Linked DNA regions of Homo sapiens. The main gene of each other region encodes a partner of the protein of the gene in region 2 in a complex. Each region holds a gene or a part of one and is shown on either strand. Other genes may lie near its edges.

Region 1 (7,835 bases), on a different chromosome or scaffold from region 2:
TAGTAGAGAAGGGGTTTCACCATGTTAGCCGGGATGGTCTCAATCTCCCGACCATGTAATCCACCTGCTACTCGGGAGGCTGAGGCAGAAGAATGGCGTGAACCCAGGAGGCGGAGCTTGCAGTGAACCGAGATGGCGCCACTGCACTCCAGCCTGGGCGACAGAGCGAGACTCCCTCTCAAAAAAAAAAAAAATGATGTAAGCAATGTGTGTGGGTATGCTATATCCATCCCATTTCCACTTCAGTTACCAAAGCACACTGCCCTTAATAGAACCTAGAAGATATTCTTCAGATGCTACTTTTCTTTTCTCTTTCAGATGGAGTCTCGCTGTCACCCGGGCTGGAGCGCAATGGCGCGATCTCAGCTCACTGCAACCTCCACCTCCCAGGTTCAAGTGATTCTCCTGCCTCAGCCTCACGAATAACTGAGACTACAGGCGCATACCACCACACCCGGCTAATTTTTGTATTTTTAGTAGAGACAGGGTTTCGTCATGTTGGCCAGGCTGGTCTCAAACTCCTGACCTCAGGTGATCCACTTGCCTTGGCCTCCCAAAGTGCTGGGATTACAGGTGTGAGCCACTACGCCCGGCCCAGATGCTATATTTCTAAATAGATAAAAAACCTAGCCAGGCGCGTTGGCTCATGCCTGTAATCCCAGCACTTCGGGAGGCCGAGGCAGGTGATCACCTGAGGTCAGGAGTTCAAGACCAGCCTGGTCAACATGGTGAAACCCTGTCTCTACTAAATATACAAAAATTAGCCGAGCGTGGTGGTAGGCGCCTGTAATCCCAGCTACTCACGAGGCTGAGGCAGGAGAATCGCTTGAACCCAGGAGGCAGAGGTTGCAGTGAGCCGAGATCGCGCCATTGCACTCCAGCCTGGGCAACAAGAGCAAAACTTCGTCTCAAAAAAAAAAAAAAAAAAAAAAAACTACTATGGTCTTTCCACACAACCCTGTCATATCATAATCCCCAGCACTGAAGCTCTTTGGGAAACCCAAGGTAGAAGAGACTTTACAAACCTTGGAGATGTGCGTTTATTTACAGACCAGGACCTCTTCCATCCATTCTCCCTCAATTTCCACTCCAACTACTCTCAGGTGAGATAAGCTTGAATTCTAACATTTAAAAAGAATTGGAAGGGTCTTTAAAAGATCACCTAGTCTAACTCTCATTTTTCAGGGAGGTTACTGATGTGACCAGAGTCACACAAGAACCTGGTAGCTGAGGTGGGTCTTAGGCATACAGCATCACTCTTAGGCATAGAGCATGCACTTAGGCATAGAGCATGCACTCTGGGTTTAAATACATAGACTTGAGTTAAAATACTGGCTCTCGCACTTACCAGATGAGTAACCTTGGACCTACTTATTTGACCTCTATGAACCAGAATTTCCTCACTTGAACAGAGTTCATACTAGTCAATGGCACACAGGTTAAAGGGTGTAGGGGTAAAGTGTAGTGATGCCTGCAATTCACCTTGAAATGTAAAAGTGGATTGGGAGAGGGACAGATGAAAAGATATATGATAAAGCAGCACAGTAAAATGTTAATTATAGAATTTAGGCACACAAGTATTTACAAGTCTTTCAACTTTTTTTGTGTCTGAAAACTGTCATACTAAAGCGGGGAAGGGACAACTAATACGTTGGATATGACAAGGCAGTGGACATATAGCTACTTAGCACAGTGCTTGGCACATGGAAAGCACTCAACCAATGTTAGCTACTTGCAGTACTAGCTGCTTAGTAAGCCAGGGTCAAACACTTCCTTTTTGGAAAGATGATGCTCAAAATGGAAACCTGAGGCTTTTCTTTGAGGCCTTTCCATTTAGAAAAATCAGGCTAAGAGGCAGTAGCTTAACTTTATATTAAGTGAAGATTTTTGTAGAAGCTAAGGCTCTCCAAAGGCCAAGGGGCATGGCTGTGACCTTAGAGAACAGCAGGCAGAGAGGGTGGCTGTATCATCATAGAGCACTGATTTGGGAGTCAGAAATACACGTGGGTGCAAACCCCAGGTTTACCGTTACTAAAACGAGTGTCAAGCATATACGTGAAGTGCCCTCTCCCCAACTCAATATTTTCACCTGCCAAAAAATAATATGTATGTGAAAGTACTTGGCATCACCAGCACTTAGAAAAAGGAGATTTAATTGGAATGGTCAAAAAGGATGCTTGGAGGGGTGGATAAACCAGATTGCTCTTCTCCATAATTCCCACTTCTCTCCCTCAGTTCCCGGATCCTGGGAACCAAAATGAGCTTTTAAAGTTTAGTCAATTCCCTACTTTAAACCGTCCCATAGCCTGCCACTGCATTCACAATAAAATCCAATTTCCTGACCGTGGCCGACAAAGCCCTGCAGTAACTAACCCCACCAAGATAAGATAATTATTTTTATTTATTGGTGTACACGTTTATCGTCTCTCACTACACTAAAATGTAAGCTCCTATCTTAATTCCCGCTGTATCCCAGTGTCGCGAATAGAGCCTGGTACGAATTAAGGGGACGGGGTTGTGTGGGTTTATATCAGCACTTGTCCATGAGTTGGCAAACCGTCAACTGCCCCCAGTGGATCGTCACTAGGTATCCTGGGGCGGCCCCTCACCCAGCTCCAGGGCGGCGCCCCTCCCCGAGCCCCTGGCCCATTTTCACTTCCCTGAGGAAATAATGGCGGGAGACCCCTGGCGCGCGCATCCCGCCCCGAGCCACCGACTTCAGCAGCTCTCTCGCCGCAGCAGCCCTGCTTGCAGCCCCCAACTCCCTGGTCCACTGGCCACACCTCTCGCGCGTTCTCCTGGCCCACAAGCCCTGAGGCCGCCTGCTTGGCCAAGCCGCTCTCGTCCAGCCCCAGCCCTTTCACGTGGCTGTGGGAGGCGATGCGCTGCGTCTTCGTAGTGCTCTTCACCTCCTCAATCTTCATTTTGCAGACGCCGGGAGCTAAAACCAGCGTGGAAAACCAGCAGCTAGGACAGTGCGCCCGGCGCCTGAGTTACCATGCGGCCGTTACTAGGGCAATTTGCAAAGGCCCGCCTAGACCGGCTTTCCATTGGTGGAAGCGGGAACACCTCCGCTCTCCATAGGCTCACGGCTGCGCCCATCGCGGCTGCTGCTAGAGCTCCGGTCACCCACTTCCGTCTGTGTCTCCGGGTTGGCTTCCCCCGTAGCCGGCGCTTCCTGCCGAGGCTGGGGTCGGGAGCACAGTGGGACCACGCCCCGGATTTGATCTAGGGCTGGGGCGTTGCACGAGGCAGTGGCCCCCGGGTACCACTCCTAATCCTTCCGTCCTATCCATTAGCACATTTGAACGTCATACTCTTACGCAAATCTCAAGTTATTATTTCCGTTTTGGAAACAGAAGAACTGAGGTTCAGAGCTTAAACTGGGATTGGTTACTAACCAATGTTTTCTGACTCCCATACCTTTGCATCTCCCTGGAAAGGCCCAGCTCAACCCACCACCGTTTCCGTGGAATTGTCTTCCCCTGCTTCTATCCTCCATCCTCCACCGAGAGATAAGGTTCCTGCTGAGTTCAGTTGACTGTAAATAACATTTTGCAGTTTTCAAAATTCCACAGCCCTGTAAGGTAGTGTAATTACGCATGCAGCTACAAACAAGCGGAAAGAGGCCCATCCGCCCAAGAAAGCATCACAAATAATCAGAACTAGAAATCTTCAGGCTTCAAAACCTATATAATAATGCTCATCACGTCCCATGACTCCAGCTGAGACAATCAGCCAGCAAATTGTCCCTTCAGGTTTCATAATGATATTAGCACAACCTGCACCACAATTGTACTTGCCATCCATCCATCCATCCGTTCAACAAACACGAGCCAGACACCACAATGCACTGGGGATACAGGGATAAAAGTCTTGATGCGTTTACTTCTTGCTTAGAAAACTTGCAACGTGAGATGTGCTGAGACAGGTACACCCAGGTGGCGAGAAGACCAGAGCAGAAGCCCCCGGAACAGCCTGGAGAGCCAGGGAAGGCATCATGAAGGTGATGTTGCCTTGGCTGAATTCCAACAAATAGGAGAGATTTCCTCAGAAGCAAATGGTATGACACCATTTTTACAGAAGAGGATACTAACATCCAGAGGAAGGGAAGGACTTGCCCAGAGTGCAGGAGAGTTTATGTTAGAATTGAGACAGACCTGAAATCAAATCCAATTACAGTAGTTCCACAGTCTCACACCGCCTTTTTTTTTTTTTTTTTTTTTTTTTTTGAGACGGAGTCTTGCTTTGTGGCCCAGGCGGGAGTGCAGTGGCGCAATCTCGGCTCACTGCAAGCTCCGCCTCCCGGGTTCACGCCATTCTCCTGCCTCAGCCTCCCGAGTAGCTGGGACTACAGGCGCCCACCATCACGCCCGGCTAATTTTTTTGTATTTTTAGTAGAGACGGGGTTTCACCGTGTTAGCCAGAATGGTCTCAATCTCCTGACCTCGTGATCCGCCCGCCTCGGCCTCCCAAAGTGCTGGGATTACAAGCGTGAGCCACCGCGCCCGGCCTCTCACACCTCCTTGTACATCTTGATTCTAACATTTGAATCTAGGTTTCTATATACTTTTTTCTTTTCTTTTGAATCTAGGTTTCTAATGATTTGCATAATTACTGGGTCAATGTTTTTCTCTCCCAGTAAACTGCAGGCCTTTTGAGGGTGTAGACCACATTTGATTGTTTACCATTTTAACCTAAGTGCCTGGCACACAGCCTACAACACAGCTCACAATTAAGGCTTCTCATGAATTCAATTAAGGTTCTAGACCACACACAAACACATACACTTGAATTCATCAGTTTTGCTGCATGTATTTTACACGTTGGCTTTTATAGGACTTGGTAATGATTTCCATCAGTGAATGGAATCTTTTGGCATTTTCAGGGCCTAAAAGAACAGAGGCCAGGCCTTGGAAGGCTGAGGTTGTTACTAGGGCATGTGGTTCATCAGCACTAGAGACAGCACCCCACAAAGTTGCTTAGCCCCTCATTGACTTGTTCCTGGTCATTACTCTTAGAAAAGAAGCAATTCCTTTCTCTATATGGAGAAGGAAACTTTTCCACCAACTAGTAGTCAAAGTGAGGCATTCTATGGGACTGACTTCTTTGTGTATTGTCCAATTAAGGAAAAAGACTTTTTTTACACTTATTATTTCAGCCCTAGTCTTTGTATCTTTTGGCACAGAAAGAAGGATTTCCTTCTAGTCCAAAAAGAGAAAGGGAGAATCAGGATTTTAGAGCACAGAGGAATATCCCCTGGATTACTTGGTCTAGTGGTTTTCAAACCACATTCCCAGCAGTTGTGGAATCCTTTTGTGGCCAGTACGGGTGGGGACAGGGAATGCTGAGAGTGTAGGATACCAGCTCCATGCCCCCACTTCCACCAGAGTTGTTCCTTTGTGTGTGTGTGTGTGTGTGTGTGTGTGTGTGTGCTAAATAACAGTTCAAACATCACTGATGGGCCAGGGGCGGTGGTACACGCCTGTAATCCCAGCACTCTGGGAGGCCGAGGCAGGTGGATCACCTGAGGTCAGGAGTTCGAAACCAGCCCGGCCAATATGGCAAAACCCCATCTCTACTAAAAATACAAAAATTACCTGGGCGTGATGGCAGGCGCCTGTAACCCCAGCTACTCAGGAGGCTGAGGCACGAGAATCGCTTGAACTCAGGAGGTGGAGGTTGCAGTGAGCCGAGATCGTGCCATTGCACTCCAACCTGGGCAACAGAGCAAGACTCATCTCAAAAAAAAAAAAAAAGGTCATTGATCTGGCCTAGCATTCTCATTTTACATGTGACGGAACTGAGGCCCCAGGAAGGGACAGGGTTTGTCCAAGGTCACAAATTGAGCAAATGCCTGACACAGATCCAGTGTGTAAAGATGCTGGACCTGGCTGCAAAGTCAGACAATTTCTTTCATTTCAACAGAAAACAATGTGGCAGGCCAGTATCCAAGCTACACAAGTCCAATAAACAGCAAGTGAGGCCTGCTGCAGTGGACAGGGTTATTCCTGACCAGCGTCCATCCCACTTCTGCGCACCACCACTCTCGTTTTCCTTCAGGAAATGACCGTTCTCCCACTTTGAGTCTGCGTAGTTTGGGCGAACTGACCCCACACCCCATGTTTGTTTCAGTGGTAAACACGTGGCCCTGGCCTGACCTATCAGTATCCCATCCTCTCAGACACTGTAATTGGCTCAGAAATGTGAGCAGCTAGTTCAATGACAGTCAGTCCTGGCAATTTACTGGACATATCAGGAGAGAAAATGTAGGTAATGGATCTGCAGGCTGGTCTTCTTTGTTACTTCATGGGGAGACTCTACCTGAGAATGAAGCCAAGACAGAGGAAAGGAAAGCTGACAGAAAGAGATTCCCGATGAAATCCTTTATATCCCTGCATCATCCTCGCCTTACTTGCAGTGTAACATGGCATTTACTTTGGGGCTTAAGATGTTTGAGTTAGATTTCTATCTGTGGGTACTGAAAATCCATATCAATGTAGTGACACATATGTAAGTAATTGTGTGGACTACTACATTCCAGAATTGTGCTGTGACAGCCCTAGACCTGCCAGCTCTCATTCCCTCACTCCCACGACCCTCTCATTCCCTTACTCCCACGACCTTTGCTCTTTCACCTCCAGGCCTTTGACCTCTCTTTCTCCAGCCCAAGCTTGATTATCTCAATCACTTGTTTCCTGACCCTTCTGCTCCCTCCTTACCTTGACTTCTATCACACCTGAACTTTGAACCCACAAGCCCAGGTCAAGCCTCCCTCTGCCTTCTTCACTGCCTCCTGAGGGCTACTGTGTGTGGCAGGATGCAACTACCCAGTGGTGCCCTGTAACCACTGCACAGTCATGGTCTCCAGCCTCAACTGGAGCAACCCAAGTAATGATTAAATGTTGTTATTTGGCCAGGTGCAGTGGCTCACGCCTGTAATCCCAACACTTTGGGAGGCCGAGGTGGGCAGATCACTTGAGGTCAGGAGTTCGAGACCAGCCTGGCCAACATGGTGAAACCCCATCTCTACTAAAAATACAAAAATTAGCCAGGCATGGCAGCACACACCTGTAGTCCCAGCTACTCGGGAGGCTGAGGCAGAAGAATTGCTTGAACCCAGAAGGCAGAGGTTGCAGTGAGCCGAGATTGCGCCACTGCACTCCAGCCTGGGCGACAGAGTGAGACCCTGTCTCAAAAATAATAAATACATACATACATACATACATACATACATACATACATACATACATAAATACATAAACGTTGTGTTAGTTTTTTGGGGGGCTTCAAGTGATCCTCCCATCTCAGCCTCCCGAGTAGCTGGGCATGCGCCACCACACCCAGCTAATTTTTTCTATTTTTTTGTAAAGACAGGGGTCTTGCTGTGTTGGCTAAGCTGGTCTTGAATTCCTGAACTCAAGCAATCCTCCTGCCTTGACCTCCCAAAATGCTGGGATTACAGGCATTAGCCATAGCACCCAGCAGTAAATGTTACATTAGTTAAAAGATTAGTTCAGCTGCAGTAACAGAGAGATCTAAAATAACAGTGGATCAAACAAGAGAGAAGTCACTTTATCTCACAGAAAGTCCAAGCAGGCATGCCAGGAGGTGGGCTGGCTTTACAATCAGTAAGGGCCTATGGTCCTTCTATGATGTGGCTCTGCCACTCCCCACACACATTGTCTATCGTGTGGTCCAAGATAGCTGCTCAAACTCCTCCCAAAAGGGCTGAATTTGCACCAACTAGAAGGAAAAAAGGGGAAGAAGAGGACATACTTCTTCCCTTTAACCTTGATATTGAAGTTGCACCATCATTTCTACTCATATCCCAG
Region 2 (7,021 bases):
GTAATCTCAGCTACTCGGGAGGCTGAGGCAGGACAATCACTTGAACCTGGGAGGCGGAGGTTGCAGTGAGCTGAGATTGTGCCATCGCACTCCAGCCTGGGTGACAGAGCAAGACTCCGTCTCAAAAAAAAAAAAAGAGTACTCTGGAAACCCTTCCAATGATTGAACCTCTCTTGCACTTGAACTGTTTGATAATACTGCTTTCTCTCCTTTGAGCCAGTCTTCCAACGCCTCAACCCCTTTACTTTCTTTTTCTTTTTTGAGACAGAGTCTTGCTCTGTCGCCAGGTTGGAGTACAGTGGCACAATCTCGGCTCCCTGCAACCTCCCCCTCCCAGGTTCAAGCAATTCTCCTGCCTCAGCCTCCTGAGTAGCAGGGACTATAGGCACGTGCCACCATGCCCAGCTAATATTTGTATTTTTAGTAGAGACGGGGTTTCACCATGTTGACCAGGATGGTCTGGAACTCCTGACCTCGTGATCCGCCCACCTCAGCCTCCCAAAGTGCTGGGATTACAGGCGTGAGCCACCACGCCTGGCCCAACCCCTCTACTTTCAAACACTTGCCTACACCCTCTGGAACTCGTGCTCTGTAATCTGCCAACTCATCTATATCCTCAAGCTCCTCACTCAGCATTCCTTCCATGACTTGCCTTAACAGAAACCTGGTCATTCACTGAGGCCACCACTCCTCTCTGCAGACCTCTGGTGGAGGTTGCTCATTCTCTTACATCCCTACAGGATATACCTATGTCCTACTGGGCCCCACCCTGTAGCTTTCAGAGCACTGCTTTTCTGCCTACCAGCAAACTCCCTTCTCTTTTGAGACCTGTGCCAAGAGTCTAGATTAACTTCTCTCCTTCCTAGTCATGGTCACTCCTTCATTCACTGAAGACTTTGGCAGTGGTTTCCACTCTTCGTCTCTACCCCAATTCCCATCATCTTAGGGTCACCCTGGTGACTTCGAAGTGCACATGGGTAGCCCCTTCAACACTGCATGGCCACAGTTTATCACCTCATCTCTAACAACCTTCTTTTCCATGTCACTTTACTTTTTTTTTTTTTTTGAGTCTCACTCTGTTGCCCAGGCTGGAGTGTAGCGACACGATCTCCACTCACTGCAACCTCCGCCTCCCGGGTTCAAGTGATTCTCCTCAGTGATTCTCAGCCCCCCGAGTAGCCAGGACTACAGGCACGCACCACCATGCCTGGCTAATTTTTTGTATGTTTAGTAGAGACGGGGTTTCACCATGTTGGCCAGGCTGGTCTCGAACTCCTTACCTTGTGATCCGCCTGCCTCGGCCTCCCAAAGTGCTGGGATTACAGATGTGAGCCACCGCGCCCAGTCACATTTTCCTTTTTAAATCATGCTTAGGTTGCTCACTGTATCATTTCAATCACTTCAGTCACTCTCCTGTCAATAATTCCCTTGCCCTGATCTGGACTGCTGAGTGCTACTGGAGAAAAATAACAGCACAGACTGGAACCACCATAAATTCATGGTCCTAGCCTTCAGCAGGTCCCTCAATACTGCTCAATATCCCACATCAATAACTATTTAAATGCTCCTCAGTCTCCTCAAGCTTCCAGCTGTATCCTTAATGTTTGACAGATGGTGCTGCATAATGAAAAAGACATCAGGTGAGAACCTCCGCCATGCCCTCCCTCTGGATTACAAACCTACAACTGTAAGCCACATTTTTAAACAGAGACAGGGTCTCACTATGTTGCCCAGGCTGGTCTTGAACTCCTGGGCTCAAGCGATCCTCCTTCCTTGGCCTCCCAAAGTGCTGGGATTACAGGCATGAGCCACTGCACTCAGCTAAGCCACACTTTCTTTCTTTTTTTTTGAGACAGAGTTTCACTCTTGTTACCCAGGCTGGAGTGCAATGGCACGATCTCGGCTCACCGCAACCCCCGCCTCCCGGGTTCAAGTGATTCTCCTGCCTCAGCCTCCCAAGTAGCTGGGATTACAGGCATGTGCCACCACACTCAGCTAATATTTTGTATTTTTAGTAGAGACAGGGTTTCTCCATGTTGGTCAGGCTGGTCTCGAACTCCTGACCTCAGATGATCCACCCGCCGCAGCCTTCCAAAGTGCTGGGATTACAGGTGTGAGCCACGGCGCCCGGCCACCACACTTTCTTTCTCCCTTCCCCCATCTGAAGCCAATTCCTCCACCATGCTGCTCTGGTTCCCAGCCTTGCCTCCCATCTCCAAAAACCTACACTATTAATAACCGTTTTTTCTTCTCTTTCTTTAAACTCAGTTCTTTCTCATGAAAGACATAATTTCTAATATCTTCGAATAAAATAAAAACAACTTTACCTTAATCTCACACCCCTCTGTAGCTTCCATTCCCTCTTCTACCCTTCATGGCCAAGCTTGAAAAGTTTTGCTCCCCAATATACTTTGATTCGACTTGGTCCCCAAAAAGTGCTAAGGTAATGTCTGACCTCTATCTCACCAAAACCAATGGGCACTTCTCAGTTCTACTAATCATCGTCTCAGCAGCAATTACTCTCTTGAGACATTCTCTTTCCTGGCATTTTTAACACAAACTCTCCTGGGTTTCTCCAACTCGTTGGTCACTTCCAGGCTCTTTTCAAAGCTCCTCCTCTTGTATGAAACTATCACATTTTAGTGTCTGCAGGACTCTATCAGGCCTCTGTTTTCTCACTCTGAGCTTTCTCCCTACATGCTCAGATGCACTCCAATATTGTCAATTACCACCCATATTCTAAAGACTTCCAAATTTGTATTTTCAGCCCAGATCTCTTATTGGAACACCAGATTTGCATATTTAACTGACCTCTCATCACTGCATGAATTGCTCACAAACTCCTTAAATTCAACATGTTCAAAAATAAATTTGTTTTTTCCCCACTGAACTTGCTCCTCCTTCAGGGTCTCCTAAGCCAGTTACTGATGTTGAAAACCTGGGAATTGCCGCGGGGTGGCCCAAGCCTGTAATCCCAGCACTTTGGGAGGGTGAGGCGGGTGGATCACCTGAGGTCAGGAGTTCAAGACCAGCCTGGCCAACATGGTGAAACCCCATCTCAACTAAAAATACAAAAAAATTAGCTGGGCATGGTGGCGGGCACCTGTAATCCCAGCTACTTGGGAGGCTGAGGCAAGAGAATCTCCAGCTCAGGAGGCGGAGCTTGCAGTGAGCCGAGATCATACCACTGCACTCCAGCCTGGGCGACAGAGTAAGACTCTGTCTCAAAAAAAAAAAAAAAAAAAAAAAGAAAGGAAAACCTGGGAGTCACTCTCCTTACAGTGGTCCAAACCAATCGCTCTGTAGCCCTGGCTGGAGTGCAGTGGTGTGATCTCGGCTCATTGCAACTTCCACCTCCCAGGTTCAAATGATTCTCTTGCCTCAGCCTCCCAAGTACCTGGGATTACAGACATGCGCCACCATGCCCAGCTAATTTTTGTATTTTTGGTAGAGACAGGGTTTCACCATGTTGGCCAGGCTGGTCTGGAACTCCCAACTGCAAGTGATCCACCCACCTTGGCCTCCCAAAGTGCCGGGATTACAGGTATGAGCCACTGCGCTTGGCCCAAACTGAAGAGATTTTTAAAGCAATACCATAAAATGAAGAGATTTTTAAAGCAATTTATCTCATGAAGGACTAATCTGCTGACTTCACGTTCTCATGATTATCATTAAAGTCAACATTATCACCCCCTGCTTTTTTTTTTTTTAAGAGATGGGGTTTCACTATGTTGTCCAGGCTGGTTATGAACTCCTGGCCTCAAGTGATCCTCCTGCCTAAATTTCCTGAGTCATTAGGTATATACCCCATTTTATAAACAAGAAAAGCAAAATGTGAATAAGTAATTTACCTACAGACTTAAAGCAAATGAATAGCAGAACGAGGATTTGACCTCAGTTCTATACAACTCTTATTTTACACCAAAGTACCTTAGCTTGTTCTTCAGAGTGCTCATAACTGCCTAGACTCTTGCACCTAATTACCTACTCTCCGCCATTTCTTCCTTCTGATTCCATCATCCCAAATTTCCATCTCTCCAGTTCTTTGGTCCTCCAGGTCTCATGGTTTTTCTCATGCCCCTCAGCCCCTCTACTCACTTTTTCTGAAACCACAGACTTACCCAGTGACCGTAAATTAAGCTCTTCTGTGATCTTGGCCTCCCGGAGCAGTTCCTCCTGGGTTAGTGGCCGCTCACAGTGGGGCCCCTTTCGCCGTCTTGACTGGCCCTGCCTCTCCTGTACCCGAAGGAACGTTTGTCGTGTATGCTCAGCTGTAGACTGACGCATAGACTTCCGACCTGGAAGAGAGTGAGATAAGAAGAAATCTTTGAATTCATGTCCACATATTTTATTTATTTATTTTGAAATGTTGTACTTGGAAATAATTTTTTTTTCTTTTTTTTTTTTTGAGATGGAATCTCGCTCTGTCGCCCAGGCTGGAGTACAGTGGCACGATCTCGGCTCACTCCAACCTCTGCTTCCTGGGTTCAAACAATTCTCCTGCCTCAGACTCCCGAGTAGCTGGGAGTACAGGTGCATGCCACCACATCCAGCTAATTTTTTGTATTTTTAGTAGAGATGGGGTTTCATCATGTTAGCCAGGATGGTCTTGAACTACTGACCTCGTGATCTGCCTGCCTCGGCCTCCCAAAATGCTGGGATTACAGGCATGAGCAACCGTGCCTGGCCTGAAATAATTTCAAACCTACGAAGTTGCAAGAATAGTACAAGGAATACTCATGTATCTTTTACCCCATCACCTATTGGTAATATTTTGGCCCTTTTGCATTTTGTTATGTGTGGTTTTTTTCTGAATGATCTAAATTAGGTAACTAAAGTTGTACACATCATGGCCTTTATCCCTAAATATTTCAGTGTGTATTTCCTAAGAATGAGGATTTTCCTACCCATAGTAAGTTATCAACATCAGTAAATTTTTTCTTCTTTTTATTACTTTTTTCTGGTGACAGAGTTTTGCTCTTGTTGCCCAGGCTGGAGTGCAATGGTGTAACCTCCACCTCCCAGGTTCAAGCAATTCTCCTGCCTCAGCCTCCCAAGTAGCTGGGATTACAGGGGCCCACCACCACACCTGGTTAATTTTTGTATTTTTAGTAGAGACGGAATTTCACCATGTTGGCCAGGCTGGTATCGAACTCCTGACCTCAGGTGATCTACCCGCCTAGGCCTCCCAAAGTGCTGGGATTCTAGGAGTGAGCCACCGCACCCAGCAACATCAGTAAATTTAACACTGATATGATACTTTATTATTATATTCCAATTTTGCCAATTGACCCTAACATCCCTACTCACTGTCAGAGCCGTCATCTTGTAGTTCTAATGGCAGTAGTGCCTTCTCTTCTCGCGCCTTCTGAGAGCTACCAGCCGGGGTGTTGACCTTTCGAGGCCTTAAGCTCTTGAGAGGTTCCTGAGGACAGATTGGAATCAGATACTGGGGAACAGAAGAAGTCAGGAGAAATATGAGGATCTCAATGAGAGAAAACTAGCATTGCCAGAAATGGAAGTGGCATAGGGAGTACTGGGACCTGATGAAAGAGAGAATAGGAATTGAGGAAATCCAAGACAACTAGGACTCCCCCTGTACCTTATAGGCCTTGGTGACTACTCGGCGCTTCCTTCTTGGCTCTTCTGCTTCTCCATCACTGGATGGTTCATCCCCTTCATCAATGTCAAAGTCAGAGTCCACTTCGTCCTCTGTGTCTGACTGGTCCCCTTGATACTCATCATCTCCGGATTCCTAAGGACACAGGGAGATAAGGGTTGGCTGGCAATGGAAGCCTTAATGCCCCTTCAGGAGGAACAGAATCTCTCGACTTTCTTGATAAGGGCTGCCCTACTCTCCTTCCTAATCCAGCCCTTCATTTTCCTCAGGCAAGAAAACTTTCTAGCTAATGGCCTTTGGCTCCAGTACCACCTCCTTCCAACATTAATTGATAGCCCTTTACCTGCAACACACTGTTAAGTACTGGGGAACAAAAGGATATGGTTTGGTCTCTACCTTCAGGGGCTTACAGTAAAGGGGAGGACATAATCTTACTTTTTTTTTTTTGAGATGTGGATCTCGAACAGGCTTGGTGGCTCACGCCTGTAATCCCAGCACTTTGGGAGGCCGAGGTGGGCAGATCACTTGAGGCCAGGAGTTCGAGACCAGCCTGGCCAACATGGTGAAACTCTGTCTCTACTAAAAATACAAAAATTAGCTGGGCATGGTGACGCACACCTGTAGTCCCAGCTACTTGGGAGGTTGAGGCAGGAGAACTGCTTGAACCCAGGAGGCATAGGTTGCAGTGAGCTGAGATAGTGCCACTGCACTCCAGCCTGGGCGACAGGGCGAGACACAGTCTCAAAAAGAAAAAAAAAAAAAAGGATGAAGAGGACTTAAACTATGATTGAAAACACTGTTAGTATTTAGACAGCCAAGAGGGAGGAAGGAATCATGGGCAGATGAAATAGCAGAAACAAAGGCACAGAAATGGTAATGTGTATAGCATGTTTATGGAATAAGGATTTAGATCTAAGTAAAACTTTTCTCTGTCAAGAAACCTTGTTAGCCAACTGCATTTGGCTCCAGCACTGCCTCCTTCCAACACTGATTGCACTGTAGGACTGTATGATTTGAAAAGAAGGTTGCATTCCATTTATGGAGAAACTTAAATGTCACACTAATAAACACGCTTTTAACCTGCAGGCCAGTGATTCTCAATCCCCTCCATCTCCTTATTTTCCCTACCATTGATAATCATTGTTGAGGTAAACTAAAGTTACTGAGAGAAATATGTGTCATTCCTCAGGCGTGTTGGGACAGAAAAACAGCTGAGTACTGCTACTATGGATAATGGAGGGCCACTGAAGATTTAGGGGAGGGGTAATGGTATGTACAATGGGTATTTCAGAAAGCTCTGGGGGCAGTTAGATGGCCTGGAGTAGAGAACGTGAAGTACAGCCTAGACCTCAGGTGAACTGGTTAGGGCTAGAATGGCAGCCATATTATAAAGAAAAGGGA

The links. The genes of interacting proteins can lie anywhere in the genome.
Region 1: the proteins of VPS72 (region 2) and RUVBL1 are in contact, whole or in part, in a cryo-EM structure (PDB 9CA9), measured with the Homo sapiens proteins. Residues at the interface, in NP_005988.1 of Homo sapiens: Ile212, His215, Arg263, Thr264, Phe265, Ile266, Thr267, Phe268, Ser269, Asp271, Phe274, Trp277, Phe278, Gln280, Gly281, Arg282, Pro283, Pro284, Lys285, Val286, Pro287, Arg289, Glu290, Ala299, Leu300, Tyr301, Arg302, Pro309; in NP_003698.1 of Homo sapiens: Thr136, Leu138, Pro140, Glu142, Met147, Tyr150, Gly151, Lys152, Thr153, Ile154, Ser155, His156, Val157, Asp173, Pro174, Phe177, Glu178, Gln181, Ala187, Gly188, Arg205, Thr208, Tyr209, Ala210, Thr211, Glu212, Phe213.

What each region holds. Positions count from the first base shown.
Region 1 is NC_000003.12:128,120,801-128,128,635, forward strand, and holds the start of RUVBL1 (ruvB-like 1), read right to left. Parts: upstream 3,013-7,835; 5' UTR 2,925-3,012; coding exon 2,784-2,924; intron 1-2,783. UniProt on the Homo sapiens protein: Possesses single-stranded DNA-stimulated ATPase and ATP-dependent DNA helicase (3' to 5') activity; hexamerization is thought to be critical for ATP hydrolysis and adjacent subunits in the ring-like structure contribute to the ATPase activity.
Region 2 is NC_000001.11:151,180,196-151,187,216, forward strand, and holds part of VPS72 (vacuolar protein sorting-associated protein 72 homolog), read right to left. Parts: intron 5,756-7,021; coding exon 5,603-5,755; intron 5,426-5,602; coding exon 5,311-5,425; intron 4,299-5,310; coding exon 4,122-4,298; intron 1-4,121. UniProt on the Homo sapiens protein: Deposition-and-exchange histone chaperone specific for H2AZ1, specifically chaperones H2AZ1 and deposits it into nucleosomes.